Regions from separate parts of the Homo sapiens genome. Here region 2 is linked to region 1. Evidence: fine-mapped expression QTL. A gene starts in region 1. The other region holds a variant in brackets. All regions are shown on one strand. Distances are from middle to middle.

The links.
Region 2: its variant is fine-mapped to the expression of NPAT in cerebellum (GTEx, PIP 0.97).

What each region holds. Positions count from the first base shown.
Region 1 is chr11:108,210,251-108,227,261 of GRCh38, forward strand. It overlaps NPAT (nuclear protein, coactivator of histone transcription), which reads right to left and starts at 12,388. Exons shown (of 18, transcript NM_002519.3): 1 at 12,250-12,388. The coding sequence starts at 12,286. It overlaps ATM (ATM serine/threonine kinase), which reads left to right and starts at 12,817. Exons shown (of 63, transcript NM_000051.4): 1 at 12,817-12,936. RefSeq lists enhancers at 8,807-9,308, 12,284-12,343, 12,754-12,913, 13,224-13,303, 13,654-13,703 and 2 more and a cis regulatory region at 8,174.
Region 2 is chr11:108,143,728-108,159,335 of GRCh38, forward strand. It overlaps ACAT1 (acetyl-CoA acetyltransferase 1), which reads left to right. Exons shown (of 12, transcript NM_000019.4): 10 at 256-320; 11 at 2,475-2,632; 12 at 3,543-3,876. The coding sequence ends at 3,663. It overlaps NPAT (nuclear protein, coactivator of histone transcription), which reads right to left. Exons shown (of 18, transcript NM_002519.3): 18 at 13,488-15,292. The coding sequence ends at 15,215. Among named protein-coding and RNA genes, the nearest start is that of ACAT1, 30 kb to the left of the region's middle. RefSeq lists a silencer at 7,042-7,210. The variant TTAAAAA/T (reference allele first, on the strand shown) is at 3,830.

The DNA.
Region 1 (17,011 bases):
GTTTAGATGTTGCTCCTGCTAAATCTCACCTTGAATTGTAATCCCCAATGTTGGAGGTGGGGCCTGGTGGGAGGTGTTTTGGCCACAGGGGCAGATTCCTCATGCCCTGGTGCTATCCTTGAGATAGTCAGTTCTCACAAGACCTGGTCATTTAAAAGTGTGTGACACCTCTTTCTCTCTTGCTCTCACTCCTGCCATGTGAGAGGCCAGCTTCCCCCTTCACCTTCTGCCATGATTGTTAAGCTTCCCAAGGCCTCCAGAAGGCAAGCAGATGCCAGCACCATGCTTCCTGCAAAACCTAAAGAACTGTGAGCCAATTAAAACCTCTTTTCTTTATAAGTTACCCACTCTCAGGTGTTTCTTCATAGAAACACAAGAACAGACTAATAGACCCAAACTATGAGAACTGACTCAAGAAGAAACAGAAAATCTGAACAGACCTATAACAAGAAATGGAATTTGTAATAAAGAAACCTCTCACGAGGAAAAGCCCAACTGGGATCAAATGCCCTCACTGGTGAATTCTACAAAACATTGAATGAAACACCAATCCTTTACAAACTCTTTTTGAAATAGTAGGAGAGGACTTCTCAACCCATTCTTTTAGACCAATATTGCCCTGATACCAAAACAAGAGAAAGACATCACAAAACTACACGCCAATAATCCTTATGAAACTGGACATGGGAGCCAGGGTCAATGGCTCATGCCTATAATCCCAGCATTTTGGGAGGCCGAGGTGGGTGGATCATGAGGTCAGGAGATTGAGACCATCCTGGCCAACATGGTGAAAACCCATCTCTACTACAAATACAAAAATTAGCTGCGCCTGGTGGTGTGTGCCTGTAATCCCAGCTACTCGGGAGGCTGGGACAGAATCGCTTGAACCAGGGAGTCAGAGGTTGCAGTGAGCCGAGATCGCGCCACTGCATTCCAGCTTGGCAACAGAGTGAGACACCGTCTAAAAAAAAAAAGAAAAGAAACAAAGTGAACATAAAAGTCCTCAACAGGGTGGGCACAGTGGCTCACGCCTGTAATCCCAGCACTGTGGGAGGCCGAGGCAGGAGGATTGCTTGAGCTCAGGAGTTCCAGACCAGCCTGGGCATAATGGCAAAAATGCCATCTCTACAAAAAATACAAAAGTTAGCTGGACATGGTGGTGTGCACCTGTGGTCCCAGCTACTTGGGAGGCTGAAATGAGAGGATCACTTGAGCCTGGGAAGTCAAGGCTGCAGTGAGCCATGATTGGGCCACTGCACTCCAGAATAGGTGACAGAGTGAGACCCTGTCTTCAGGAAAAAAAAAAAAAAAAATCCTTAACAAAATACTAGCAAATCAAGTCCAGCAACATATAAAAACAGTGATGCACCATGACCAAGTGGGATTTAATGCAGTAATGCAAGGTTGGTTGAATAAAAATAAATCAGTGTAATATACTATATCCCTAACGTAAAAGACGAAAGTCACATTATCATGGAAAAAGAACTGAACAAAATCCAACCAATCTGGGCAATATAGTGAGACCCCCATCTCTGCAAAAAATTAAAAATTTAGCTGGGTATGGTGGCATGTGCCTATAGTTCCAGTTACTTGGGAGGGTGAGGTAGAAGGATAGTTTTAGTCTGGGAGGCTGAGGCTGCAGTGGGCCATAATCATGCCACTGCAGTCCAGCCTGGATGACAGAGTAAGAACCTGTTTCAAAAGCAAAACAAAACAAAACAAAACTCTACCAAAGAAACCAAAAAAAACAAAATCCAACACCCTTTCATGATAAAAACACTAGAAATAAAAAGAAATTTCCTCAACCTCATAGAGTTATCTATTAAAAAAAAAAAAAGCCAAGTAACATCATCTTCAATGGTTTAAAATTCAAACCTTTCCCCATAAGATCAGGGAAAAGGTAAGAAGGTCTGTTCTTGTCATTTCTATTCAACATTGCATGTATCCTCTAGCCAGGGCAATTAGGAAAAAACTTGAAATAAAAAGCATCCAGGCCGGGTGCAGTGGCTCACACCTGTAATCCCAGCACTTTGGGAGGCCGAGCTGGGCGGATCATTTGAGGTCAGGAGTTCCAGACCAGCCTGCTCAACATGGTGAAACCCCGTCTCTACTAAAAATACAAAAATTAGCCAGGTGTGGTGGTGCATGCCTGTAATGCCAACTACTCAGGAGGCAGAGGCAGGAGAATTGCTTGAATCCGGGAGGTGGAGGTTGCAGTGAGCTGAGATAGGGCCACTGCACTCTAGCCTGGGCAACAGAGAGAGACTCCGTCTCAAAAGAAAAAAAAAAAAAGCATCCAGATTGGAAAGGAAAAAATCAAGATTACCCCTATTTGCAGATGACATGTCTTATATAGAAAATCCTAAGGAAGCCATAAAAAACAACAACAACAACAACAAAAAAACTATTAGAGGCCAGGCACCACGGCTCATACCTATAATCCCAGCACTCTGGGAGGCCAAGGCAGGCAGATTGCCTGAGGTCAGGAGTTCGAGACCAGTCTGGCCAACATGGTGAAACCCCGTCTCTACTAAAAATACAAAAAAATGAGCCAGGCATGGTGGTGTCCACCTTAATCCCAGCTGCTAGGGAGGCTGAGGCAGGGGAATCACTTGAACCAGGGAGGTGGAGGTTGCAATGAGCCGAGATGGTGCCATTGCACTCCAGCCTGGGCAACAGAGCAAGACTCTGTCTCAAAAAAAAAAAAAAAAAAAAAAAAAAAGGAGTTAAGAAACCTCCCTGGGCGGGGCATGGTGGCTCATGCCTATAATCCAGCACTTTGGGAGGCCAAGGCCAGCAAATCACCTGAGGTCGGGAGTTCGAGACCAGCCTGACCAACATGGAGAAACCCTGGTGCTACTAAAAATACAAAGTTAGCTGGGCAAGGTGATGCATGCCTGTAATCCCAGCTATTCCAGAGGCTGAGGCAGGAGAATCGCTTGAACCCGGGAGGCAGAGGTTGTGGTGAGCCAAGATTGCGCCATTGCACTCCAGCCTGGGCAACAAGAGCGAAACTCTGTCCCAAAAACAAAACGAAACAAAACAAAAACTATTAGAGCTAATAAATGACTTCGACAAGGTTGCAGGATACACAGTGAATATATAAAAGTCAATAAATCTCAATGAACTACCAAAAATTAAGAATGCAATGCTAGTTACAATAGCATCAAAAGAAATAAAATACTTAGGAATAAGTTTAACAAAAGTAAAGGACTTGCATACTAAAAACTGGAAAACGTCACTGGAGGAAATTAAAGACCTAAATCCACGCAAAGACATACTGTGTTCATGGACTGAAAGGTTCAATATTGTTAAAAACTCAATACTCCCAAAATTCACCGATACATTCAACACAATTCCTATCATAATCTCAACTGCCTTTTGTGCAGAAATTGACAAACATCCTAAAACTCCTAAGGTAATACAAGGGGGCTGGAATAGCCAAAATAATCTTGAAAATGAAGAAAAAGTTGAAGCACTTACACTTACCAATTTCAAAACTTACTGTAAAGCTACAGTAATCCAGACGATGTACGGGCATGAGGTTAGACACAGAAATTAGTGGAACAAAATAAAAAATCCAGACCTTTCTTATTTATCTAGTCAACTCTGAAGCATGGAATCCAGACATTTATGGTCAGTTTATTTTTTTTCAGAGACAGAGTCTTGCTCTGTCACCCAGGCTGAAGTAGAGTGGCTCAATCATAGCTCACTATAACCTTGAACTCCTGGGCTGAAGTGATCCTCCCACTTCAGCCAACCCAGTAGCTAGGACTAGAGGCATGTACCACCAAATAAATGCCCAGCTAATTACTTACTTATTGGTACAGATGGGGTGTCTCAGTATGCTGCCCAGGCTGGTCTCGCTCCCCTGGCTTCAAGCAATCCTCCTGCCTTGGCCTCCCAAAGTGTTGGGATTACAGGGTGAGCCATTACAGCTGGCCTGCATTTTTCATAACAGTGTCCATTAATGAATGGACAAACAAAATATGGCATATTCATATAATGAAATATTCAGCTATAAAAAGGAATGAAGTACTAATACCTGCTACAACATGGAATAAGGCTGAAAACATTATGCTATGTGAAAGTCAGACACAAAAAGCGAAATATTCTATTTCATTTATGTGCAATGTCCAGGCAAGGCACATGTATAGATACAGAAAGTAGATTTGTGGTTGGCAGAGGACGGGGCAAGGGGGAATTGGAAGTGACTTAATAGTATAAGGATTCTCTTTGGAGTGATGGAAATATTGAAATTACTGGTGATATCTGCACATTATGAATCCATAAATATCCTGGATTTTCATACCCTGAAAAACAACGAAGTTTACATTTTGTAGTATGTGCATCATATCTCAATAAAAAAATATGATTCCAATTTTTTTTTTTTTTTTTTGAGATGGAGTCCCGCTCTTGTCACCTGTGCTGGAGTGCAATGATGCAATCTCGGCTCACTGCAACCTCTGCCTCCCAGGTTCAAGCGATTCTCCTGCCTCAGCCTCCCAAGTAGCTGGGATTACAGACGCCTGCCACCATGCCTGGCTAATTTTTATATTTTTAGTAGAGATGGGGTTTTGCCATGTTGGCCAGGCTGGTCTGGAACTCCTGACCTCAGGTGATTTGCCCGCCTCGGCCTCCCAAAGTGCTGGGATTACACGCGTGAGCCACTGCACCCGGCCTATGATTTCAAATTTTTAATGTGTCGTATGAGGTTCTACTTGCTTTGTACCCTAATTTCCTCTTCAGCCTATGTTTTACCATTCCATCGCTTCCAGCCAAACTGGTCTTTCAGTCCCACAGATACACATTGATTATATTTCAAGGCCATTGTTTATTCTATTTCCTTTGCTTGGGCAGCTAATCTTTTCTTAACCTAGCTATCTTCAACTCATTCTTCACAGTTTAGTATAATTACTCCCTATTCCCTACTATTAAATATTCCCTTATAGGTATTACTTAATACTTATAAGTATTCCCTTATATTTTCCTTTGAAGTACACTTATCTCAGTGCTGGCATAATAGTCAGTAAGTATTTGTTAGCTACTGAAATTATAAGTGGGAGCTAAAGGATGAGAACACACGGGCACATAAAGGGAACAACACACACTGGGGCCTATTGGAGGTGAAGGGTGGGAGGAGGTAGAGGATCAGGAAAAATAACTAATGGGTTCTAGGCTTAACACCTGGGTGATGAAATAATACGTACAACAAACCCCTATGACACAAGTTTACCTATATAACAAACCTGCACATGTACCCCTGAATTTAAAAGATAAAAAAAAGAAATTATGTCTAACGTCTCTTCCAACTTTATAACGTTCTACTCTCTTCACCTGGAACTGTATCGTTAACCAGGTCCAACAGGTGAAAAACCTAATAAGGTTGCCTACAAAGTCATTATACACTAAGGTTTTAAAAAGGAAAGGGCAAGGATATGGTCATCTCGTTACAGGCAATGCCCTAGCTGTGATTTGGGAATCAACTCACCACTCTCTACTTGTTGATGAATCTGTTTTCCAACCTCTTGCTAACTAATAAGAAGAAACAAACAAATATACAAATCAAAAACCAAAGGCATTGTGTTTTGGAGAAAGCATTTGGATATCTGAAGAAAGCTTTATCTCAGATAACATGACTTCAATCTTCCTATCATTGAACATCAAACCACAGATGTGAAATTAATTAGATCAAAGATACACTGCAATGTTTTCTTCTCTTTTTGTGAAAACTAGCTGGCTGAAAAGTAATTTTTATGATGGCTGGCTTTCCGACCGTTATAATATTTGGAATAGGTGAGTTAGCTGTTACTAGCTTTTTGTAAACACAAAAATTTAAAACTTCTACAGACTATTAGAATCACCTTAAAATTAGGACAGTTGGAGCTTTTTCCTCATATGCTTCAAGATTTAGATTGAACACCTCAAATATACTTCCTTTTCATGGTGGAGTTTCAAGTACTTATCACCCTAGATGCCTTCAGTCACTTGGGGACTTCTGATAGACGGTGGTATTAAAATCTACTATAGATTTGCAGTAGATTTTTATCTATCTTAAAGTAGATTTGCTTTCCCCTAGACCATGCATTCTCAAAAGGAGTCATACTGCCCTAAGAGGCTGAAAATTGGTTCTGGGGCAGGGAGGAATGAAGAAAATCTCCCTCTTTTTATGCATAAATCACAGATACACATGATATATAAACATATACAATATATTCATGACACTAAAACATTAAACTTTCGTGTGGGGAGGAGAGGAGGGTCAGGGAAAAAAAAAAAGCCTAAGAAGATTCCTTAAAGTTGTGTAATGAAATAAAGGTTGAGAAACAATGCCCCAGACAGAATACAGTGATACACAGTAAACCTTTTTCAGAAAAATATTGTCATTTGTGCTAGCATAACCTGGAATCATTACAGATAATTCATGGCATTTCATAAAACATTATACCTCTGTATAGCACACACATGAGATGGGGCTGTTAAAAGCTAGATTACCTCTATAATAAGTGTTTAAGTTATAATGTATCTCAAAATAGTAATATCTAGGATACATTATCTTCTGCTCTTAACAACATGCCCCAACTTTGGCAATCTTGAGTTCTCATTTTAGATTAGATTTGATGTATTCTGGTTTACTTTTGTCCCAAAAGTTCCAAAATAATGTAGTAAATAGTTGACTACTCTCATGTTCACTGATCATTATATAGCAAGTCCTCGAATACCATCATTTTGTTCAATGTTTTTGTTATACTGCTGATGAGAGAAAAAAATCAATTTCTGGCTGAGGACACTGTATGTGTGGAGTTTACACATTTTCCCCATGCCTGCATGGGTTTTCTCCAGGTACACGTTTCTTCCCAAACTCCAAAGATGTGCACGTTGTTAACTGGTGTGTCTAAATTATTACAGTGTGAGCATGAGTGAGTGTACGTGGGCGTGTGAGTGCTCCCTTCAACAGAATGACATCCTGCCCAGGGTTAGTTCCTGCCTTGCACCCTAAGCTGCTGGGATAGGCTCTAGCTACCTGCAACCTTGAACTGGACTAACTGGGTAAGTAATTATCTTGTTTTTATTAATCCATCTTAAATGTATATATAGCTTACATGTATTTCAATGTTTAATATTAGAAGTGTTTTGGACTTTATTTACAAGTGTGGTGATATTTTTGTGACCAAAAATATGCTGAAGAAATTCTTGTATATATCAGTTAGCCTATGGTAAAATTAGTTTGATTATATATCATTTTGCTTAAAGTTGCAGTTTTCAAGAACCTATTGAACCTATTAAATTAGGCCTTACTATATATATATGATTAGTATCTGCCTACAAAATGTTTATTTATCATCATTAAGTATCTGACTATAACCAATTCTCAGTCAGGTAACAGGAAATTTTAGGCACAAATTAATTCTAAATCTCTGGTGTTAGATGAATGAAAATCCAAATATGATGAAAATACTGGCTGGGCACAGTGGCTCATGGCTATAATCCCAGCACTTTGGGAGGCCGAGGCGCATGGATCACTTGAGGTCAGGAGTTCCAGAACAGCCTGGCCAATATGGTGAAACCCAGTCTCTACTAAAAATACAAAAATTAGCCGGGCGTGGTGGTGAGCGCCTGTAATCCCAGCTACTTCAGAGGCTGAGGCAGGAGAATCACTTGAACCTGGGAGGCAGAGGTTGCAGTAAGCCAAGATCTCACTGCTGCACCCAGCCTGGATGACAAGAGTGCAATTCTGTCTCAAGAAATAAATAAATAAAATAGAAAATACAAACTAGGCACTAATCATCTCTTATCAGTATAATACAAATCGTTATTCTACAACTAATATTAGTTATTACTGTTTTTTCCTTTTATTCCTAAAAACAACTTAAGAATAAAAGAAGTGTATTTTTTTGTGTAAACTTACTGACAAAGGTCCCCGAATAGGTAAGAAAGTATGCCTGAGTTTCCTTCTTAACATAATATTATCTTCAGCCTACTTTTATTATAAGTGGAGGTGGTAATGAGTAACTAAATGAATTGAAGGGGAAACAACCGAAAAAGAGAAGAAAGGATAAGATCCTAACTATATGAAGGGTATTTTTTCTTCCTACTTGTAGAGAGGGAAAGATAAAAAGAGAGGTTTAAAGCAAGCAAGAGATAGTAAAGCACGCTATGTGAAAACATCTCCTTCACATATTTTATTATTTCCTAGAAAGATTAGTAATTTAATGTTCGTTAAGCATGCAAATAATTCTTAGGAAGCCGTACCTTATGTTGTCTTATATTACTAGATCCACAAATAACAGGGACAAGGTTTCTGTCTATAAAGTTACAATTTACTTGGAGATAGAAGATATATACACAAATAACTGTAATGCAAAGCAAAAATGGTAAGAAAATAGAGCTGACTCACTTCATGGGAAGGGAGGGGCTGGAGAAACCACTACTAAGCTTGGAAATTATGTGATGTTTGAAGGTGCAGATGAGTACTGAAGGATGGTTGGGAATCCCAAAGAAGCTGACAGAAAGTATATATGCAATCATATTTGGGGAACATGTCCAGTTTGGATGCAGCACAAGGTTTATGAAGGGTAACAGTTGGAGATACAACAGAAAAGACAAAATGGGTAAGGATCATGAAAAGTTTTAGACAGCAATGAGTACATATATTATTAAATAAACAAAGGAGTGTCATAATCAGAGCCATACTTTTGCAAATGTTTTATTAAATATCTATGTTTTGGTGATATAAAGGTGAATAGAACCAGCAGCTCTTGACCTGTTAGGGGTGTGTCAGTTTTGGTCCTGTTTGACCTCAAACACGTTCTTGACCCTTCTGTCGCTCTCTACTGTATGACATAAAGCTTGACTCTATATAGGCAATGTTCCCCAAGCTCTTCTGTCGGCCTGCTACTGGCTGGGCTCAGTAAATAGGAAGCACTGGTGGGAGGCTGGAGGGCAGGAGGAAGCAGCCATATTTTTCCCCCATTCCCTTTCTGCCTCAGTAGAGTCTCCTCTAAGACTACCACTCCCTCATCAGACAAGTCTTCCACGTTCCGCAGTCAAACCAGCCTCTTGATTGCTTCCTCTCTCCTTATCCTTCTCATTAGCATAGTGGCTTCCTACTGTTGCTAACCACTGAGATGCCTTAGTTGTAAGCTGCTGGGCGTCTTAGCTTTTCTCTCACCAGTGTAAACGAATTCTCTCATTAAATCTTTCCATGTTAAATACTCAGAATGGTTTCTACTTTTTTTACTGCATGCTGTCTCATACAGAAGGTAACAAATCTATTCAAGAAAACCTTCACAGATGATAGTTTTGGGGACTCCCAGAACTCTTGAAGCTTGTCCATTCATCCATGACTAAGACTACTAATAAAACAAAAAACCAAGTAAGTTTCAAATTGGGAAGATGAAAAAGTTCCAGAAACTGATGGTAGTGATGGTTGCAGAAAAATGTCAATATAGTTAACACTACTGATCTGTACATTAAAAACAAACAACAACAACAACAACAACAACAACAAACTCATTGTTTTGGGCTTTAAGAACTATACATTTTTAAGTGTTGAATTTTGTTAGTATATTTTATCAAAAAAAAGTAAACACACATCTACAATGAGACATGATAAGGTTGTAACAGAAGTACAATGCTATGGCAACATTTAAGAAGTACTGACTGTACTTGCTGAATGAAGTTTCAGAGATCAGGCATGACCTGAACCTTGAATAGAAGTGTACTAGGAAGACAAAGAGAAGTAGAATACATACAAGAATTTTCAAAGAAACTTCAATTCGTTTGGCATGTCTGCAGCATAAAACAGATGTTAGGAAGTTGAGATCAAGTTGGAGAGGTAGGTAGGATCAGTTCCACAGAGCACCTTGAATAAATAGATAAAAACTGAACTGATGGCCCAGAGGCAACAAACACTTTGATGTATTCTGGCCCACACAACATTTTGTAAAATCCCAGCAAGGCAATAAGGGCTACTTAAGTGGAGTAGTGAGATGCAAAAGTCAGAGTGCAGTATCCTGAAGGATAAAAGGTAGGTGAAGAACAGCAACTAAGTGGAATTCATTGTTCTTTGAATAAATTTGACTTGTGAAAGGGTGACACAGAACATAAGACAGAATGTTCTGTTTAATGGGTGTCTAATGTCTAGTGGGGTCCAGAAAAGTGTTTTTTTGTGTGTATGTTTAAGAATTTAAAAAAAACCTAATTATCTGAACACTAAGGGGAGAAAACTTAACTTCTCTATGTTCAGCAATTGGCACAGTGTTTGGAACATACTAGGCACCCAAAGATTTGCTAGAAAAAAAACATTATGAAGGGACCAATAACAAGAGGAGCTGAAGATGGCGAGGGGGTACTGATAGGAAAAGAATCATGAGTAAATAATAAACCTCATATGAGAAAGATATACACGATATGTATCTATTTAAGATGTAAAATGATAAACGACAAAAGTAAGAGCATTAGGCATGGGGAGGCTTTTTTGTATTGTATACTCCTGCCCATCTGAAATTTTTAGTAAGAATAGAATTATCTCAACTTTCAGACTAAAAGGTATAGTGTGAAAGCTTCAGGGAGATTTGTAACAACAGTAAATAAAATGAATTGCGAGGACAACTGTCTGGGAAGCCATGACAGAAGTCCAAAAGAGAAGTAATGGCAGGCACATTGCGGGATTGGTGGCAGTGAAAATGGAATGTGAATGACAAAGATTTTTAAGATAAGAAAACCATGGCTGGCGTTTTTTGTCCATTAAATGAAAAGCAGGAAGTCAGCAGAGTAGCTGGTTTGTGGAGAAAGAATACTCACACATCGATGTGAATTATTTCAATTAGAAAATGATACTGCTTTCTTAGGGCTTTCTTAACTAGGGGTGATTCTGCCCTCCAGGGGACATACTAGCAATATCTAGAGACATTTTCACTGATCACAACTGGGTAAGGGTAGGGTGGGGAACGGGTGTCCTACTGTAATCTAGTGAATAGAAGCCAGGAATGCTGCTAAACATCCTACAATGTTTGAGCACAGGATAGCTCCCCACAATAAAGAATTATGAGGCCCAAAATGTTAACAGTACTGAGGCTGAGAAACCATGTTTAAGACTATAGTTACCGAAACTCAACTAGATTACCAAACTGCCAAAACTCAGAATTCTTAAGCAAAAGATTAATCAGACATTAACAAAACATTAAACTTGTCATTAAGTTTCTTCAAAAATGGATGGTGGAACCATTTCCGTTTAACGTTTCCTGCAAAATGTGCTTATCAAGAGCCCTGCGCAAATAACATTTTTGTGGACAGCGCTGGGCATTTAAAAGAGGCACAAGACAAATGGGTTTTCCGAACAATAAAATAATAGTAGTAATGGCTGTGAATACTATGGGAGGTTTCATCACAGATGCTTGCCATTTACTTTTAGGGACGTCGCATACGACGTCCGTAAATTACTGGCTCGGGTTTTGAGCTTTACCTGGCTCTCGTCCCCTGTAGTACAATCCTCTTTATTCTTTCAGGGGACAAACAACAACAAAACCCGTCTCTCACACAGACAATACACCCTGACAGACAAGTGACCCACAAACAATCCCTCCTCAAATGAAGGTAAAACTAGGGCTAGAAAACGTTCAACTAATTTAAGGCAATTAACCCTCTGAAATTTTTCGCTGATCAAAGGAACAGGAATTGCTGTTTTAAAATATGCAACTGGCATTTCACACCTCTACACTGGACGACGTATTGCGTGGAGGATGGAGAAGGAAGATCACCCCTACTCCCAAATTCGTAGTTATAAGGGCGGGTTATTAGAAGGGCGCCAGGAAGGTCTCTCTACAAAGATGGGGGGCCGGGGAACTCCCTATTTGCCCTATTTTGGTCCCAACACTGAACCAAGGAAATTGCGCCCAAGGTTGAAGCACACGCAATCCGTCCGTCATGCAGACAAATGCTCTTTCAGGGGTCCTAATTAAGTGTGGAGGCCTGACTTTCCTTCCGAATCCGCCCCAGGTGTTCCACCCCGAGCTTCCCCTCGGGCTTCCCCTCGCCACGCAGCCTCTGAAGAGAGGAGCATCTACATACAAAGAGGCTTAAACTGCCCAGAACCTCCGAATGACGAAGAATCACCGCCAGTCTCAACTCGTAAGCTGGGAGGCAAAACCCCAAAGCTTCCCTACCAAGGGAAAACCTTTGGCCTCAAAGGTCCTTCTGTCCAGCATAGCCGGGTCCAATAACCCTCCATCCCGCGTCCGCGCTTACCCAATACAAGCCGGGCTACGTCCGAGGGTAACAACATGATCAAAACCACAGCAGGAACCACAATAAGGAACAAGACTCAGGTTAAAGCAAACACAGCGACAGCTCCTGCGCCGCATCTCCTGGTTCCAGTGGCGGCACTGAACTCGCGGCAATTTGTCCCGCCTCTTTCGCTTCACGGCAGCCAATCGCTTCCGCCAGAGAAAGAAAGGCGCCGAAATGAAACCCGCCTCCGTTCGCCTTCGGAACTGTCGTCACTTCCGTCCTCAGACTTGGAGGGGCGGGGATGAGGAGGGCGGGGAGGACGACGAGGGCGAAGAGGGTGGGTGAGAGCCCCGGAGCCCGAGCCGAAGGGCGAGCCGCAAACGCTAAGTCGCTGGCCATTGGTGGACATGGCGCAGGCGCGTTTGCTCCGACGGGCCGAATGTTTTGGGGCAGTGTTTTGAGCGCGGAGACCGCGTGATACTGGATGCGCATGGGCATACCGTGCTCTGCGGCTGCTTGGCGTTGCTTCTTCCTCCAGAAGTGGGCGCTGGGCAGTCACGCAGGGTTTGAACCGGAAGCGGGAGTAGGTAGCTGCGTGGCTAACGGAGAAAAGAAGCCGTGGCCGCGGGAGGAGGCGAGAGGAGTCGGGATCTGCGCTGCAGCCACCGCCGCGGTTGATACTACTTTGACCTTCCGAGTGCAGTGGTAGGGGCGCGGAGGCAACGCAGCGGCTTCTGCGCTGGGAAATTCAGTCGTGTGCGACCCAGTCTGTCCTCTCCCCAGACCGCCAATCTCATGCACCCCTCCAGAGTGGCCCTTGACTCCTCCCTCTCCTCACTCCATCTTTCCTGGCCTCTCTCCGGGTGCTTAGCGGACTTGGCCAATAACCTCCTCCTTTTAAACGCCCTGAATTGAACCCTGCCTCCTGCGCATCCTCTTTTTGTGTCACCTTAGGGTTCAGATTTAACTACGCGACTTGACTAGTCATCTTTTGATCTCTCTCTCGTATTTAGTACTTTTAGTCAGCGAGCATTTATTGATATTTCAACTTCAGCCTCGCGGTTAAGAGCTTGGGCTCTGGAATCATACGGCTGGAATTGGAATTCTGTCAGTCGTGTGGCCGCTCTCTACTGTCTTGTGAAGATAAGTGAGATAATCTTGACCTGTGGTGAGCACTCGTGAGCGTTAGCTGCTGTATTTACCAGGTACAGATAAGACAACTACAGTGGATGATAATGTATGTGGTGATAGGGGAGTACTCTGATGGTAGAGGAGTGACTTTGGTTCTCTGCAAACTCAGCCTGAGACTATCAATTCAGTTTGTGGTGAGACCTCGCAGTGTTACCTTGGCAGATGGTAGAAGCCTTCCAGATGGAAGGAAAAATGCGTGTAAAGGCACAAAGTGTAGAAGGACCCTGAAGCTCCAGCGTGAGGCCTGGCATTGAATGAAATATATTTTGTGGGTTTTCAGCTGCTGAAGTCATAGGAATGGATGAGACCAAGAAAACAAAGCTGTTTTTGAGGTATGAGCGGAAGAAGAGATATCAGGAGACTTTCGAAACAGTCATAACGGAAGTTAATATGATCATTGCTAACATTTGCTGTGTTTCAGGCACTGTAAGCATGTATATGGGTCCTTAAAGGGACTCATAGAGGTAGGTACTAGTATTGTTTTTCCTTTTATCATTGAGAAACTGAGGTTTGAAGAGATTAGTGAACTTGCTCTAGATTATACAGTTTGTAAGTGGCTGAACCAGGATTTGAACTAATACAATCTGACTACAGAGGCCACACTCCTTAGCACTAGAAAAGAATGGCATGCCAAGGGCAGAGTTATTTCTAGGAAGATGGGATATAAGCGTCATTGTCAAGTTGTGCAAAGGGGTCAACTTGGTTGAGATCTAAAAAGGAACACTGAATTCGTCAATTCAGAGGCTCGTAGGAAGTAGGAAATCCTTATCTTTTCGTTTGAACCTTGAGTGGAACCTAGATATTCTGGATTAATGTATAAATGAAGTTCATCTTTATATGGTGACACTCATACTCTAGTTGACTACCTAATAGTTCCTCTGCCTTCTTTCAGTTCCGCCAACATACTGTGTTCTTTAACATTGTAGAACCCTTTGGCTATGCTAGTCTCCTTCCCTGAAGTGTTGGTCCTCTAGCCCTTTTTTTGATTGGCACCAGTTAGTTCAGATCTTGGCTTTATTATAAACTCCTCTGAGATATATGTTCCCTGACAGTTTATCTAAAATGATTCTCTCTACAGTTATTTTCTATTACTGTGTTTTTGTTTCCTCAGAGGCATACATCACAATTTGGAATTATGCATTGGTTTATCAATTTACTTGTTTATTGTCACCCTGCTGCCCAGATATGACTTCATGAGGGTAGGATTTGTATCTGTTTAGTTCATTATTTGTCTAGCTATAAGTAGTAAATATTGTTTGCATCTATCAGTGAATGAGCATCTTCTGTTTATGTAGATAATACTGAACTGTTTTGTTTTCTTCAAAGTAATCATTAAGCTGAAGGTAAGAAAAACAAGTTCAAGGAAGTCACACCATGGGGAAAAAAAAGTCAAGTTTAGGGCTGCCTCTTCCGGGAAGTGTCAAATCTTTAGTATATTTAGGAATAAAGGTGCCAAACCTTATGGTTCTTTGGATATTGCTAAGGTATTTTCATTGGTTAGATTACCAGTTTCATTTTCCTTATTGACTCAAGAGGGCTTTAAACTGAGATTGAAGAAGTAAGAAGATTCCTAGATAAAACCATAAGGAATGGAAAAACAAAAATGATAATACTTGTCCACAGGAAGTATATAATCAAATGAAAAGAACTCAAATAACAATCTGTAATCTATAGCAGAGTAAAGCGGAAGTTGTAATAGTGTTGGGGGATGGGGGAAGTCAGAAGAACCACCAGTGAATATAAAAGGAGAAGAGAATCAGAGCCATCTGCTAATAAAATGGGTAGTCAGCTCTTTTTGTTTTTTTTGTCTTGTTTTGTTTTGAGACAGTCTCGCTCTGTCGCCCATGCTGGAGTGCAATTGCGTGATCTCAGCTAACTGCACTTTCCGCCTCCTGGGTTCAAGTGAGTCTCCTACCTCAGTCTCCCCAGTAGCTAGGATTGCAGGCACATGCTACCACACCTGGTTAATTTTTGTATTTTTAGTAGAGACGGGGTTTCACGATGTTGGCCAGGCTGGCTGGTCTCGAACTCCTGACCTCGTGGAACGCCCACCTCGGCCTCCCAGAGTGCTGGGATTACAGGCATGAGCCACCACGCCTAGCCCCGGTAGTCAGCTCTTACTGAGAATATTCAAAGACAGGGCATTCATTTTGTAAGAGACATTCCTTCCTTCATAGGAAGATTGGACCTGGTCTTTTAGTTCCTCCCAATTTTGAGATTCTGTGAGATTGAATCGGGGCAGAGAAACATACTTAATCTTGAAAGATTAAGTAGAATTTAGATGGATGGATAGGAGAAGGACTTTCCCTACCTTTTTACTTCTTGAGATATAGTTATTTGTAGGTATAATATACATAAATATATGTATTTTTTCTCTGTTTACAGACATTCATAGTTTAATAAAAAACTTCTTTGTATTATATAAAGGTTTAGATCAGAACTAGTAAAACAGAATGCTGTTTCTTTTTTTTTCTTTTCTATTTTACTTTAGGTTCTGTGGGTAGATGTGCGGGTTTGTTACATGGGTAAATTGCATGTTGCTGAGGCTTGGTGTACGAATGATCCTGTCACTCAGGTAGTGAGCATAGTACCTGATAGGTAGCCCTTCAAGCCATACCTCCCTTTCTTTCCAACCCTCAAACAGTCCCCAGTCTCTGTTCTTCCCATCTTTGTGTCCATGTTGAAATGCTGTTCTTACTACATTTTTTTGAAGGACATCAAAAGAGAGTTTGATTATATCAGAAGCCCCCAAAAGAAGAGAGCTACTCAGTGGAATCAAGGCATAGTAAAATATAGTTGATCCTTGATATTTGCAAAGGATACCACCATAGCATAGAATTTGCTTCATTTCCTTTTAAAACAGAAATGTCATTTTACTCCTATTGTTATGTGTTAAATAAGAACCTTAATACCAGTTGAGATGGAAGTGGTAGACAAAGCTTACTAGCTCTGATAACCTCCTACTTATCAGCTCCAAAGCATGTTTTAAGCCTTTGGCTCAGCAAAATGACATGTCTCTCCATATAAGCAAGAGTGCTTTTTTTTTTTTCTTTGAGACGGAGTCTTGCTCTGTCACCAGGCTGGAGTGCAGTGGCGCGATCTCCGCTCACTGCAACCTCTGCCTCCTGGGTTCAAGCGATTCTCCTACCTCAGCCTCCTGAGTAGCTGGGACTACAAGAGCACACTACCACGCCTGGCCAAGAGTGCTTTTAAATAGTTCATTGTCAATGTTAAATCCTTGAGTGCTCATTTCCTTATTTACCTGGCTGTTTTCTATTCATCTTTCATGTCTCAATTTAAATGTCATGTTTCTTTGGTCTCAGAGTAATAAAAAGTAAATATACTTCCCCCATCTCCCGCCCCGCAGAGCCTTCCTCTGTTGCCCAGGCTGGAGTACAGTGGCTCGATCTTGGCTCACTGAAAGCTCTGCCTCCCAGATTCAAGCGATTCTCCTGCCTCAGCCTCCTGAGTAGCTGGGATTACAGGCGCGCGCCACCAAGCCCGGCTAATTTTTGTATTTTTAGTAGAGACAGGGTTTCACCATGTTGGTCAGGCTGGTCGAACTCCTGACCTTGTGATCCTCCCACCT
Region 2 (15,608 bases), 67 kb before region 1:
AACCAAAAACATCTCTAGGTGGTGCCAATGTTCCTAGAGGCAAATACCCCCAAACTCCCCCCCAATGAAAATCAGTGTCTTAGATTACTGGAGTAATTTTATAAAGTGTAGAATCCTAGAAAAGGAAGACATATATTTACATATATTAAAGGGGCTAGGAAATGTGCATTTAATGGGCTAAACTTGGCTTGTGCATATTCTATACAGTAAAAAAAAAAAGATTTTAACAACCCCCCCCCCCCTTTTTTTAAACAGCATTTGCTGACGCTGCTGTAGAACCTATTGATTTTCCAATTGCTCCTGTATATGCTGCATCTATGGTGAGAACAAAGTGAGGGGCGATACTCCATTATGCTAGCTTCTGGTTTGCTTATACCAAGGTTGCAGTTTTTAAGATTTTAAATGTTATCTGCCAAAGCAGAGAGATAGCTTGGTTTCAAATCTTCCCATGTCTTCTCCTGAAAAGAGTAAGAGCAACAAGGATAACAAACAAAAAAAAAAAAATAAAGAACAGCTCACAAACTACATCTTCAGTAGAACAGGTAAAACTACACATCTGAATTACTTGTAAGTATCATACAGAACTCACACACCTGGTGTGGTAACCACAAAGCGGAGGGAATGCTGGCTGATGGTTCCAGATCTAGAATGGAAAGCAACTAGTCACTCCCCAGGAGAGGACTCCATTCTGAAAGGGAACAGCTGGCAGCAGGTCTTCAGAGTAAATAGTAAAACTAGAGACAGAAAACCTACATATTCCAAATTGTCAGTAAGGGCTATCCAAGTCTCAGTGGGAAATTGCTAAGCAGTCACAGGAAAAGAAAGTTTTAGGGGTTCAGGGTTCTTAGAAATCTTAAGTAAATATTTCCTTTTGAGAGGGCCTCACCCTGACAGTAAACTTCTGTAAGCACCCAGATAAAAAAAATTGCAGAATTTTAGTAAAATCAGATTCTCCCCACTGCCCCCAACCCCCGCAATGAAAAAAAAAACTGCAGAATCAGTAGGAAACAAGAATAGAGAAGATCAGAAACAAGGGGCCAGTGGAGTGATGATCTGCTCAGAGCTAGCAGATCTCAGAAAATGAAAGGAACACGCAGCTTCTGAAAGTGAGTAACATCACGTTGGAAAGCAAGGGTAATAAACAATTCTGGATTCTGAAGGTAGAATAACTTCTGAGAGCTACAGACATAGCTATATATGGGTACCATATTTTGTTTTGTGTTGTTGGAACAGTGGAAGCTGTTTGAGCTGTATAGGCTAGAAAGCTACCCTTAGTCCACTAGTAGAAGAGAGGAAGATGGAGGAAGAGTTCCACGTTAATTTTATTATCGCTCACAACAATCAAATTTCTTCTGTAAAGAAAAAGGGCACTCACTAGTAATGTTTTAGGGCACTCACTAGTAATGTTTTAAAAAGTATTAGCATAGGGATAATCACTGGCACAAATACACCTTCCTGCATAGCTGAGGAACTACCAAAACAAAACAGATCATATAGTGTAAGATTTTAAATAAATGACTTACAATGAAACTGCAACAGATGTAAATATCTGTGGCCCAGATAACCCTACAGTAACATTTATAAAGCAGAAACTGCAGGGGATGCATTAATATCACTAATATTAGAAACTAATATACCTCTTTCATTAACAGTCAAGAACATAGAAATGGCTGGGTGCAGTGGCGCTCGCCTGTAATCCCAGCGCTTTGGGAGGCAGATCGCTTGAGCCTGGGAGGTCAAGGCTGCAGTGGGCCATGACTGTGCCATTCCACTTCAGCCTGGGTGACAGAGCAAGACCCTGTCTCAAAATAAATCAACAACAACAAAAAAGAATATAGAACCAAGCAACACACAATCAGTAAAGCAGAGCTTAAGAATATATAAAGCATTATGTGCCCCTAAATAGAAAATGTACCTTTTCAAATATCTGTGGAAAGAAAATCAAATTTTCTGTCCCCTATGTCAAAACAGACATAATGCAAACAAAATTCTTTGATATAATGGAATAAGATGAGCAACTAAAAATCTGAAAATGGGCCGGGTGCGGTGGCTCACGCCTGTAATCCCAGCACTTTGGGAGGCTGAAGTGAGCAGATCACCTGAGGTCAGGAGTTTGAGACCAGCCTGGCCAAACATGGTGAAACCCTGTCTCTACTAAAAATACAAAAAATTAGCTGGGCATGGTGGTGGGCATCTGTAATCCCAGCTACTCAGGAGGCTGAGACAGGAGAACTGCTTGAACCTGGGAGGCAGAGGTTATAGTGAGCCAAGATGGCGCCATTGCACTCCAGCCTGGGAGACAGAGCAAGACTGTTGGAAAAAAAAAAAATCTGAAAATAGAGATCCTTCCATCTGAAACCAAGAACTTCCATATTTAAATAACTTATGTCAAACTGTAGTATTTCAAGGAAATGATGACAGTAAGTTGTGATTGCTAATTATTTGAACATCATCTGTCTTTTAAAAAATTTAAGGTTCTTAAAGATGTGGGATTGAAAAAAGAAGATATTGCAATGTGGGAAGTAAATGAAGCCTTTAGTCTGGTTGTACTAGCAAACATTAAAATGTTGGAGATTGATCCCCAAAAAGTGAATATCAATGGAGGAGCTGTTTCTCTGGGACATCCAATTGGGTAGGTAAAAATAATAACTATATCTAGGTTAAGAGCTGCCTTTGTGTTTCTAGCTAAACTTAAAACTGCTTCATAATTCCCATTGCTCTTAAGTTTTCCTTCCTACCCATCTTTCATAAGGCAAAAACCATTTCTGATAGATGGTATCCAATACTGAACAGAGACCTGTCACATCTGTTATTTGAAACCTAATAATGTTTTATGCTGAAGAAGAAAAAGTGTACATTTAGACTTTTTACCCCCTTTTTCTCCTTCCTATTTATTTCATTAGCTTTAGGGTACCGTGGGTTTTGGTTACATGGATGAATTTATAGTGGTGGGGGCTGATTTCAGTGCACCTGTCAGTCACCCAATATGTAGTTTATCCCACATCCCTCTTCCATTATACTCTACTCTTCTATCCATTATACTGTTCTGTACTTTTAAAAGATCTGTGACCTGGCCAGGCACGGTGGCTCACGCCTGTAATCCTAGCACTTTGGGAGGCTGAGGTGAACAGATCACGAGGTCAAGAGATAGAGGCCATCCTGGCCAACATGGCGAAACCCTGTCTCTACTAAAAATACGAAAATTAGCTGGGTGTGGTGGTGCACGCCTGTAGTCCCAGCTACTTGGGAGGCTGAGGCAGGAGAATCGCTTGAACCCAGGAGGTGGATGTTGCAGTGAGCTGAGATTCTGCCATTGCACTCCAGCCTGGCGACAGAGCGAGACTCCATCTCAAAAAATGATCTAAGATCTGTGACCCTTCCTGAAACAAGTCCTCCAAGTTTTAGTTTTAGAATAGTAGTAGTTAATTCAGCAAGTAGTAGTGGCTAGTAAGGTTTTCAAGAAGTTAAATTGGAATAGAAACATTTTGGTTAGTCATAAATTCTGTACTTCATTAAAGAAGTAAATGCTTTCTTAATTTTAGGATGTCTGGAGCCAGGATTGTTGGTCATTTGACTCATGCCTTGAAGCAAGGAGAATACGGTCTTGCCAGTATTTGCAATGGAGGAGGAGGTGCTTCTGCCATGCTAATTCAGAAGCTGTAGACAACCTCTGCTATTTAAGGAGACAACCCTATGTGACCAGAAGGCCTGCTGTAATCAGTGTGACTACTGTGGGTCAGCTTATATTCAGATAAGCTGTTTCATTTTTTATTATTTTCTATGTTAACTTTTAAAAATCAAAATGATGAAATCCCAAAACATTTTGAAA[TTAAAAA/T]TAAATTTCTTCTTCTGCTTTTTTCTTGGTAACCTTGAAAAGTTTGATACATTTTTGCATTCTGAGTCTATACTTATCGAAATATGGTAGAAATACCAATGTGTAATATTAGTGACTTACATAAGTAGCTAGAAGTTTCCATTTGTGAGAACACATTTATATTTTTGAGGATTGTTAAAGGTCAAGTGAATGCTCTTTATAGGTAATTTACATTTAGTAAATTACGGTAAATTAAATTACTTCTCTTTACAGTAAGAGTTGGCTATTCTGGACAAACTAGCAGTGCTTCATATAATCACTCAAACCACAGTGTGTGCAGCAGTACTAGAAACAAGACAGAAGCCCATGTCCTCAGGGTCTAGAGTGGGGGCAATTTCTTATAACCTCAACATTCAGGGTTGGGGGAGGTCAAGCAGAAAACCCTGGAGTTTGGGCTCTGAATTACTATAGCAGCATAGAGAGTGGGAAGGGAGGTAGAAACTGATATGCTGAATGGATATATAAAAAAGGGAACAGATCACCACTTCCAATACACGACAATGCCTGTTCTTAAGCAGGACAGACTGTAACAGAAGTATCTCGCATTGCATTTTATCTGGGAAAAAATTAATTAATTAAAACGCTACAGGCAGGGGCTATGCACACTACCCTCAATTGCAGCTCTGAAGAGGGAAAACTCCCCCTCAGGAAGAGGAGGGGGCAGTAAAGGTCATTGTGTACACATTATCTGTTGGCAAATAATGTATTGTAGATCTTTTGAAGGAGCAAAATGACAATATATGGGAGAAATAGATTAGATTGCTCTTCAGATTCAGAGGAAGAGTAGAGTATTTTCAAAAACATCTGTAATCATCACCAACTTTTGAGGCTTGTTATGTGCTTTATATGTATAAACTCATTTAATTGTCACAAAAACTTCTAAGAGTGGGTACCATTATTATCCCTCCTTTATAAACAAGGAAATTGAGGCATAGAGTAGCTAAATAAATTCCAAGGGCAAAAAGCTGGCTAGGATTCAACTCCAAGTTAGTCAAGCTCCAGAGCCCACGTTCTTAACTTACTATGCTTTAGTTAAATGCCTTTCAATAATTATCTGCCCCGACTTACAAAAACTTCTAACTGAACCAGGAGCTGGATAAGATATAGGAGAAAAGGAAACCCAAAACATGAGAATACTTCATTGAAGATAAGCAGAAACTAACATTGCATCCAAAGGTCATTGATCTGGAAAACATCTGAGAAGTGCTCTGACAATTCTGGGAAAAAATGGAAAAGAGAGAAGAAACAGAGAATCAAGTAAGTAGGTTTTTTAATTTGTTTTAAAGAGATAAGGTATTGCTCTGTCGCCTGGGCTGGAGTGCAGTGGCATGACCATAGCTCACTGTAACCTTGAACTCCTGGGTTCTCAAGTGATCTGCCTCCCTCAGCCTCCTGAGTAGTTAGGACTATAGGCACATGCTACCATGCACAGCTTAAATGGTGTTTCCTAAAAAAAAAAAAAAAGATACTCTGAAGCAATAATTTAATATAACAGAAAACATAAAGATAATAGAAAAACTCAGATTTTTAAGTCCTAAGGGGGAAGATTTTAAAGAGCATTTTTTTTTTTTCTTTTTTGAGACAGAGTTTTGCTTCGTAGCTCAGGCTGGAATGCAGTGGCACGATCTTGGCTCACTGCAACCTCCGCTCCCTGGGTTCAAGCGATTCTCGTGCCTCAGCCTCCTGAGTATACAGGCATGCGCCACCAAACCTAGCTATTTTATTTTCAGTAGAGAGAAGAGTTTTGCCATGTAGGCCTGGCTGGTCTCGAACTCCTGACTTCAGGTGATCCTTCTGCCTCGGCCTCCCGAAGTGCTGGGATTATAGGCATGAGCCACCACGCCCAGCCCTAAAGAGCATATTTTATTGGCAAAATTAATTAGCAGAAAATCATACTAAGACATTCTGGAGAAAATGTATTAAATTCCTCTAACATCTAGTTAGAAAAATAGGTAGCCACAGTTCTTATTTCTATTACATTCAATCCAAGAAAACAAGTGACAGGACATCTAACTGTTTTTAATGAAACAAAATAAGATACTAAAAGGTGTGTCTCAAACACAGAAAAGTTTAGAAAATAAAGTACTCTGATGTTTCCTCCAAAAATGACAAAGGTTTAGGCAAGCCCATGGAATGAAGAATTAAGAATTCAGTTAGGTGAAAGTTTCTAATTTTTTAAATGACTGCTTAAGGACTGGCTGGGGAAGAAGGAAAGGTAGTGGTTGAAGGAAATAAAAATGTTTTACCTCAAATTATATTTATTTGACATATTTTGAGATGGCTATCAGAGGGCCAGCAAACAGAAGTGGTGCTGCAAAGCTGTCTTTTTTGAAAGAAATCTGCGTCTATGGAGAATCTCCATTAATGCAGCCAGGACTTCCCTTGTCTGGAATCTAGAAAAGGTTAAATGAGAGCCTGTCTGACACCTTTAAAGGTCTTAAACATTTAACATCCATTCTCTCAGAAAGCTTCTAACAAGACCACCTTTCCTAGCCAGGTCTCCTTTCCCTACCCGTAACCTGTGTTGCCACTAAAACCTGATTTACCAAAATAACATGTTTTTGGCCATGCTGGGAGCTCACATTACTTCTGTAACCTGAAGATGGTATAAAGTTCCTACACCTGGCCGGACACAGGGGCTCATGTCTGTAATCCTGGCACTTTTGAGAGGCCCAGATGGGCAGCTCACCTGAGGTAAGAAGTTCGACAGCAGTCTGGCCAACATGGTGAAACCCTGTCTCTACTATAAATACAAAAATTAGCCGGTCGTGGTGGCGCATGCCTGTAGTCCCTGCAACTCAGGAGGCTGAGGTGGAAGAATCGCTTCAACCCAGGAGGCAGAGGTTGCAGTGAGCCAAGATCACACCATTGGACTCTAGCCTGGGCAACAGAGTGAGACTGTCTCAAAAAAAAAAAAAAAAAAAAGTTTCTACACCCCACTGGGGGCGGGGTCAGGTCTTTGTCTGAAGGCCCCCATGTATACAACATTAAATAAATGTATATTCCTTTTCTCCAATTAATCTGCCTTTTGCAAACAGCTTTATTTTCCAGCAAACCTTCAGAGGGCCAAGGGGAACTTCAAGGTTACAGTGAAATGATCCTGCCACTGTACTGGGGGACAGAGGGAGACCTTGTCTCTTAAACAAAGAAAAGAAATACCATTTACTTTCTGGTTCTCTATTTTTTCTCTTCCTTTCCATTTTTTCCCCAGAATTTTCAGAGCACTTTTCAAATGTTTTCCAGATCACCAACCTTTGGATGCACTACTTACCTTCAGTGAAGTATTCTAAAATATGTTGAGTTTCCTTTTTTCCTTGTATTTTCCTTTTTTTTCTTGTGTTTTACACCTACCTCCTGGTTTCCCTTGGCCTTTACATGGTGAAATATCGGTAACATGTTATCTTTATCTGCTAAATAAAGGTAAACGCTAGTAGGACAAGTTCTGAGACTGCCCTCACGGGACTTACAAGAATTGCATGCTGGGTCCTGGACAGAAATATAGTTATAACTAGGCACTAAACAGGCTGCACCTTGGCCCACTTCCTAAACCCTCGGGGAGAGATTTGAAGTTTCCTCCAGTCTCCTCATTCGGTGGCCCTGCAATTAAACATCTTTCTTTGCTGCAGCCCAGGGTCTTACATACTGACTTGTCATGCACAATGGGCAATGGACCTGTTATGGTTACAGTTCCATATCTTAAGTTACTATAAGACAACAGCTTTAAAATCCAATAATAAAGTAAAAAGAGGCTGGGCGAGGTGGCTCACGCCTGTAATCCCAGCATTTTTGGAGGCCGAGGCAGGTGGATCATCTGAGGTCAGGAGTTCGAAGACCAGCTTGGCCAACATGGAGAAAACCCGTCTCTACTAAAAGTACAAAATTAGCCGGGCGTGGTCGTGCATACCCGTAATCCCAGCTACGTGGGAGGCTGAGGCAGGAGAATCGTTTGGGCCAGGGAGGTGGAGGTTGTGGTGAGCTGAGATCATGCCACTGCACTCTAGCCTGGGCAACAAGAGCGAAACTCTGTCTCAAAAAAAAAAAAAAAAAAAAAAAAAAAAAAAAAAAGTAAAAAGGGTTGCATGTATCATAAATTATGAGAAGGCAGAAACTGTTAAAATGGGGAAAGAACTACTTTTTATGATGGTCTACTTTGTACTTTTTTTTTTGGCAGAAAAAAAGCCAAAGCTATGACCAAGATAATAATGTTTCATGGATTAAACAAACACTTGTGAAAAAAGTATTAAAGCAAAGACAGGATTCAAACAGTATAAGACTGAATACATATCAAACTTTACCTTTCTAAACAATACCTATTTCTTTTTTAACTTTTTTTTTGAGATAGGGTCTTGCTCTGTTGCCCAGGTTGTAGTGCAGTGGCATGGTCTCATCTCACTGCAGCCTTGACTTCCTGGGCTCAAGTGATACACCCACCTCAGCCTCCCTGGTAGCTAGGACCACAGGTGCATACTACCATGCCTGGCTAATTTTTGGTAGAGATGGGGGTTTCATCATGTTGCCCAGGTTGGTCTCGAACTCCTGGGCTCAAGTGATCTGCCTGCCTTGGCCTCCCAAAGTGCTGGGATTACAGGTGTGAGCCACCATGCCCAGCCAACATTACCTATTTCTAAGCCCCCGTGCAACATTTATAAAACCTGCAACTTATCCTGACCACAATAATAAAAATTTTAGGCAAAAAAGAGCCTGGTATCATTTATTGTAAATAGTTATGTATGAATATTAAAAGTACTTACCCAAATTTTGCTGAAAGTTGAAATCAGAAGCAAATTCACAGCCTTAAATGCTTACATGGTTTAAGAAGGGGAAAAAAAAATCAGATAACTGTTTATTAATTTAAGTTAAATAAACATGCAAAAAGGACCCTGAGAAAGTAGGAAGCACAAAGAATAGGCTCCTATACAACTGTTGAATCTAAGAAGTGTTTTTGACAGAAAAAAGTTAATTGTATCTTAGAGAACAAAAGCCAAAATTAAAAAAAATGTGATATTTGACTCAGGAAAAAAAAGGTCAAAGCCTGAATAGATAATCAGCCAGGAAGAAATTTAGGAGAAAAAAAAATGGAAAACTGCTTAAGCAAAAGGCTCCAGGCCTAGATAATTTAGTAGTGATTTAGTCTCAAGGAACAGTTATTTCTCATTCTAAATAAACTGTTGCAGAAAAAAGAAATAAAAAACAGCATCAGCTATAATAGCAACTAGTTCTTAAAGTGCTTATTATGTTCCAGGCATTAATCTAAGTGCTTTTACATATATTGTACAATTTAAACTTCACACTTTAGCACTGGTACTATTTATTATCCCCAATATTCAAATAAACTAGAAAAAGAAGGAAAGGTTTAAAATTCATTTTAAAAACTGGCATAAGTTTGAAACCAATCTCATTAAAAGTAAACTTTTCATTGGGTGTGTTGGTGTGCACTTGTAGTCCCAGCTACTCATGAAGTTGAGGCAGGAGGATCCTTTGAGCCCAGTAGTTCAAGGCTATAGTGGGCTATGACTGTGCCCATGAACAGCCACTGCACTCTAGCCTGGGCAATATAGCAAGACCTTGTCTCAAAAACAAAAACCAAAAACATTTAAATAAAATATTCACAAAGCAAACTTACTTAAAATAATCACTAATATAAAAAGAAATTCATGAGTTCAATGAAAATATTTTAATTGATGCTTAAACGTGGCAATTAAGTTGAACAGGTACTTCTGATGTAAAATCGTAAAACTCTACCAACAAAAGCAAACATTATACTTAATAAAAGCAAACATTATACCTAACATTGCCATTAAAATGGGGAACAAGACAATGAAGCAGACTTTGATCATTATTAGTTGCACTGGAAGTGCTAATATCAGTGTAGTAAAAATAAATAAAATTGGAAAATAATTATTTACAGATAATACTTCACAAATTAAAAAGTAGCACTGGTAAATCCATTAGTACTAACAGACTTCACTCAGTATAGAAAATAAATAGAACTAAAATATAAAAGATTTTGGGACTGGCACAGTGGCTCACGCCTGTAATCCCAGCACCTCGGGAGGCTGAGGTGGGTGAATCACCTGAGGTCAGGAGTTCAAGACCAGCCTGGACAATATGGTGAAACCCTGTCTCTACTAAAAATACAAAAATTAACTGGGTGTGGTGGCGCACAACTGTAATCCCAGCTACTGAGGAGGCTCAGGAAGGAGAATTGCTTGAACCTGGGAGGCGGAGGTTACAGTCACCAGAGATGACACCAATGCCCTCTGGCCTGGGCGACAGAGTGAGACTATCTCAAAAAAAAAAAAAAAAAGATTTTCAACATTAATTAAGACAGTGTGTTATTAGCACATCTTAAAGAAAGCAGACCAATGGAACAGCATAGAGTCCAGAAACAAACCTACACATTTACCAGCTTATGAGAAAAGTAACTGTGCAATGTAGTTGGGAAAGGATAATCTTTGGTAATAAATAGTGTGGGTTAATTGTATATCAATGTGGAAAATCAATTCCAGATAGATGGTCAAATCAAAATGAAATAGGTTGAACCATAACGCTTTCAGAAGAATAACAAGGGAGAATACTCAGACACCTAACATCCATCCGAAAAAGGACCTGTATCCAGAATACAGAAAGAACACGTAAAAATCAGTAAGAAAAAGGCAGACACCCAATACTAAAATGGGCAAAAACCTTGGACTGTCCACAAAAGATAACCCAAATAGTATTTGAAAAGGTTTTCAACTTCATTAAAAAAAAAACAAAACCCAAAAAACCAACACCAAATTAAAACCAAAACATATACCAATACACACCACTAAAATGGCTAAATGAAAATATCTAACATCAGAAATAACACAGAGTATCGAGAACTTATTATACTGTTGAGTGCAGCATAAGTTGTTACAACCATTCTGGAAAATGAAAAAATCTGAATGTCTGAATATATGCAACTGTGTTCCAGCAACCCTATTCCTAAGTATTTATCCAACTGAGAAGTGTAATGCATTCATAAAAAAATGTGCAAGAATGTTCACAGCACAGTCTGTTCACAATAAGCACCTTTTACCATCTATAAAATGGATTAACTGTAATATAATACAATGAATATATACACAGCATTGAGCATGACTGAGCTGAATTATACAAAACGAGTGTTTCTCACAGATTATATACTCCATGTATCCACTGATATCGTTAAGGAAAACAAAGCTAAATCTCTGGTGCCAGAAGTCACAATAATGACTACTCTAGGGTACTGGTAATGTTCAAAGTGATTATGTGGATGTATTTACTTAAAGAAAATTCACTGAAGGGCATGAATTTATAGTGGTGCACTTTTCTCTTTATGTGTCTCCATAAAAATTTTATATTAATAAAGCAAGACCATCCCTACATAACAGCAATAACCAGTTAAAACTATGAAATGAAGAGCTTTCTAAAAATAGTAACAAACAAAAACATCCAGTTTAGCAAGAAATTTCTGATAGGGATAACTATAACACTTTGATACATACCATATGATCGTTACCCTTTGCTTCTTTATGAATTAGCTTATGACATTAATGTAGTTCAAATATTCCAATAGAAATTTAACCTGAAATAATTCAAGTGATTCTAAAGTTCACCAGGAAGCATAAAAGGGTGAATACTTGAAAAAACAAAAACAGTAACAGTGGACACAAAAGTTATAATGATTTAATCAGTGGCACAGAATAGACGATACACATACCATATAGTGTGTATATATGTGTGTACATTTAATACAAGTCCAAAATCTTTGATCATACACACCTTTGGGGTTAGCTGGGGTTCATAAATCAGAATATTTTGGATTTCTAAAAAATAACTCAAATGTATGCACCATATGCCCCCCAGTTGAGTCTGGAACAGCAGACTAATCAACATTACTATAAATGAGATAAAGACTGTTAAGTAGCCTCGTGTCATTTCAGGTCAGGTTTGCCACAGAATGAGTTCTGATGTTAAATCTAGGGGAAAAAAATTGGTTGCCGGAACCTTTTGGGTTTTAGAATTGTGAATAAGAGATTGTTAATCAGTGTAGGATAAGACAGACATCTTAAATAAATGAGCAGGGGAAAGGAAAGCTTATCTGAACAAACTGTGCAGTGGTTAAATTGTCAAGTGAACAAATTGTCAAGCAGTTAAATATTTAGGGAAAAAATGTACATTGACCCTTTTTTCATATCAGGTACCAAAACAAGTAACAAATGGATTAGGAGCTAACTCCTAATTTTACCAAATCAGGAAACACAAACCTAGAAACAGGTGATGATATAGGTGAATATGCCTCTGGAAATGGATAAGCATATGCTATGCAAAAAAATGACAATTTGCTGGTAGAAATGTAAATTGACGCAAGTTTAATAGCAGCATATGGCAAAATGTACTGAGATCCTTAAAAAAAGGTACACTAACTTCTTGATTTGGTAATTCTACTCTCTAAAATTTCTAAGGAAATAGTTAACATAAACAAATGTTTATAAAAATGCTCACTGCTGTTTTTGTTTGTAATAGCTAAAAAAAGGAAAAAGCTTTATATTATTGGAAGTAAAAGCAGCAGCTGGATGAGGTGGCTCACATGCCTGTAATCCCAACACCTGGGAGGCCGAGGCAGGAGGACTGCTTGAGTCCAAGAGTTTGATATCATCCTGGGCAACATAGTGAGACCCCATCTCTCTGAAAGACAAAAACAAAAAACAAAAAACAAAAAAACCAAAAAAACCCAAAAAACTGGGTGCGATGGGATATGTCTGTGGTCCCAGCTACTCGGGAGGCTGAGGTAGGAGGATCACTTGAGCCTGGGAGATCGAGGCTGCAGTGAGCCATGATTGTGCCACTGTACTTCAGCCTGCAACAGAGTGAGACCCTCTCTCAAAAAAAAAAAAAAAAAACAAAACAAAAAGCATTAGGAAGCTATATGTACCATGTGTTCAACAATGTAGATACAAATTTACGAAAAAAAGACAAAAGTATGACAAAATGATAACATTTATAAAAAGAAAAAAGTACACAATGAGTCCATTGCTTAAAGGAAGCAGCAAAATAACTAATAATAAAGTCAAAACTTATGTAATTTCAGAAAGCTGGGCCTGAGCCTAAAAGATGATGACCAGAGAAAGGATGAATGCAGAATATATAGTAATATGCTTTTGAAATTACTCCTAATAGTCATGACATGTAGCCTTTGCATGAATGCTGATGGATGCTTTTCTTATGCGCAATTTCAACACACTATAGTTCTAATATATCCAGGGCTAAATCTGTAACAAGATTTTACTTAACAACACTTCTCAGATTTGGCATACACTGACTGCATTAACCTCTAAGTAATATCCAAACAACAGACTGGATCCTCATATGTAATTATAAAAACAGCCATGGATTGTTGTAGTATACATCAACCCTGAAATGCAGTCACTGGGCATTTAAGTATTCAAATAGGTTACCAGGTACAATAGTATAATTAAGTTCAGGACCTGTGGACTTTTAAGGTAAAATGGGGATATGATTTTGCTCTTGAACATAAAAGCTCCAAGTACAAGTTATCTTTCAACTTTACTTAGCAGTTCCTGGTTAGTTAACTATGAATCTTGAAGAAAGTAAACTTATTTTATTTGTATATGAATTTTCAGTGCTTAGTACATACAACTATGAATTGAATAAGAAGAAAACTGTGATTTTCAGCATTGTACAAACTCCCAAAAAGAACTGACTTGCAAAGGAATTTAATCAGTTTCTAAACAAGACTGCCAATGTAAAGTAATTCAAACTTTTGAAGTTAATGAAAATATTTATTCAAACCTAACTGTAGTACAGTCTCAAGCTGAGTTAAATAAACATTAACTATATGATATTTAGTTCCTTAGGAATAGACCACTGCCACACCATACAAATTTCTTACATCACAAGTTTTTGCAGTAAGGTTCAGCAATTAAGAAGACATGATTTCTACACTGAGAAATGTTGTGTTAAAGTTGGATGGATTTATTTTTTTAAAGGCCCAGTACAAAAAAATGGTTGAGGAAAGTGACTCTTCAACAAAATATACACCTGTAGAAAAAAATCCCTAATATACTGATATTTAATTGAACGGAAAGTACTAAAGAGAACATACTTTAATATCTAGGCACAATTGGTCAGGTACTAATTATAATTTCTGTTCTCATTTAAAAGTTTAAACCAATTCTTCAACTGGACTGATGTGTGTGAGTCTAATACAGAGAAGGCACCTCTCTCATCTCTCACTCTCCTTAAGGACCTTTTGAGAGAAACTCTTTGTAACACTTTAAGGGACACAGACAATGCACTATATCTAAGTATAGATATAGTTATTTAACATACCCATTGTAGGAGAAACTAAAATATAAAACTATGATTTCTCTTTTTACATCTTATGATGGACACAACACCAGAAGATAATCCTCCACATAAACTCTCACATAGAACACAAGATTTAAATTATATGTGCATTGGTCACTACAATGTAAAGAGTTCTATGAATTAGTGCAATTCTTTAAATCCCCAGCATTTAGGGGAAAAGTACATACCGAGAAATCTCTACTACAAACCAAAATTTTATGGCTCAATAGTCTAACCACTTAAAGTTCTGTAAAAAATCTTAAGTTATAAATGAAAGATCAGAACATTCAATAAATGGTTTACAAAATTCTCTCTTTAAAACAAAGAGAACAGAGTGATCAGAGTAGGTAAAGTGTGAAATTCCAGAAATATAATACTTACAGCAATTATAAGAAAGGGGTAGTATTCACTCTAGGAAAAAAACTCATCAAACTGTTGATTTCTAATTAGATATTTTGCTATCAGTTGAGGTGGTTATTATTTTGTAGTACTTAGTGATTGTGTATTTAAATGTCTTATTGAATAGTTACTGAAGGTAATTTATAAGAATAAGCATCATTTTCCTCCAAAACAAGTGAGAAACTATTCCAGATGAGTAAGTCTCAGAATTAGGGATCATAAGAAGTCAAAAAACACAGTGTAAGAACATTAGGTTGATTTAACCTCTATTTCAACAAGATTTACACAGTATTTACAATATGGAATTGTCAAAGCTATACAGTTTTGCAGATTGGCTTTACTTACATTTCTGCAAACGTTTTTCCCAAAATAAAAATATACCAAGTAAGTCTATTTACAAACTAGGAAGCTGTTTCAGAAACAGCATGATTTAGATATAAAGTGAAGTTTCAGTACAATGAAAGTGCAGGTCATGCTTTCAGATTCTGTCAATATCCCATTCCCTACACTCAGTTTAAGGGATATGAGTTTTTAACACCTACTGTTCTTATGTGTCCAGAATGTTTACTCATCATAATGCAATGATAACAAAAATTTGTCTACATCCATTCCTGCTGGAAATGAACTGGGAAGCTTCTTTTTCTGTTGAAAAAGAGAAAGAAAAAATAAACTCAAAACAAGGCCAAAATGCTTTCTTAGTAAGTCACCTAAAACAGTATATTGGGTTCTTTCACATACTACTAAAATTGTCAAACTTTTTTAGTCTATTAGAATTTTACTTCTATAGAGAAGTAGAGACAAGTTTTATAAACCCAAAGTTACTTAAATATACTTCAATGGCACCTGAATGTTAGTTTATGGCAAAAGACATGATACAAATCCAGAGTGTCTGAATGTTGAATGAGACAAGATAGAACATGCTTTCTATGTTAGGTGGTTATTACTGCTTAGAAAGCTT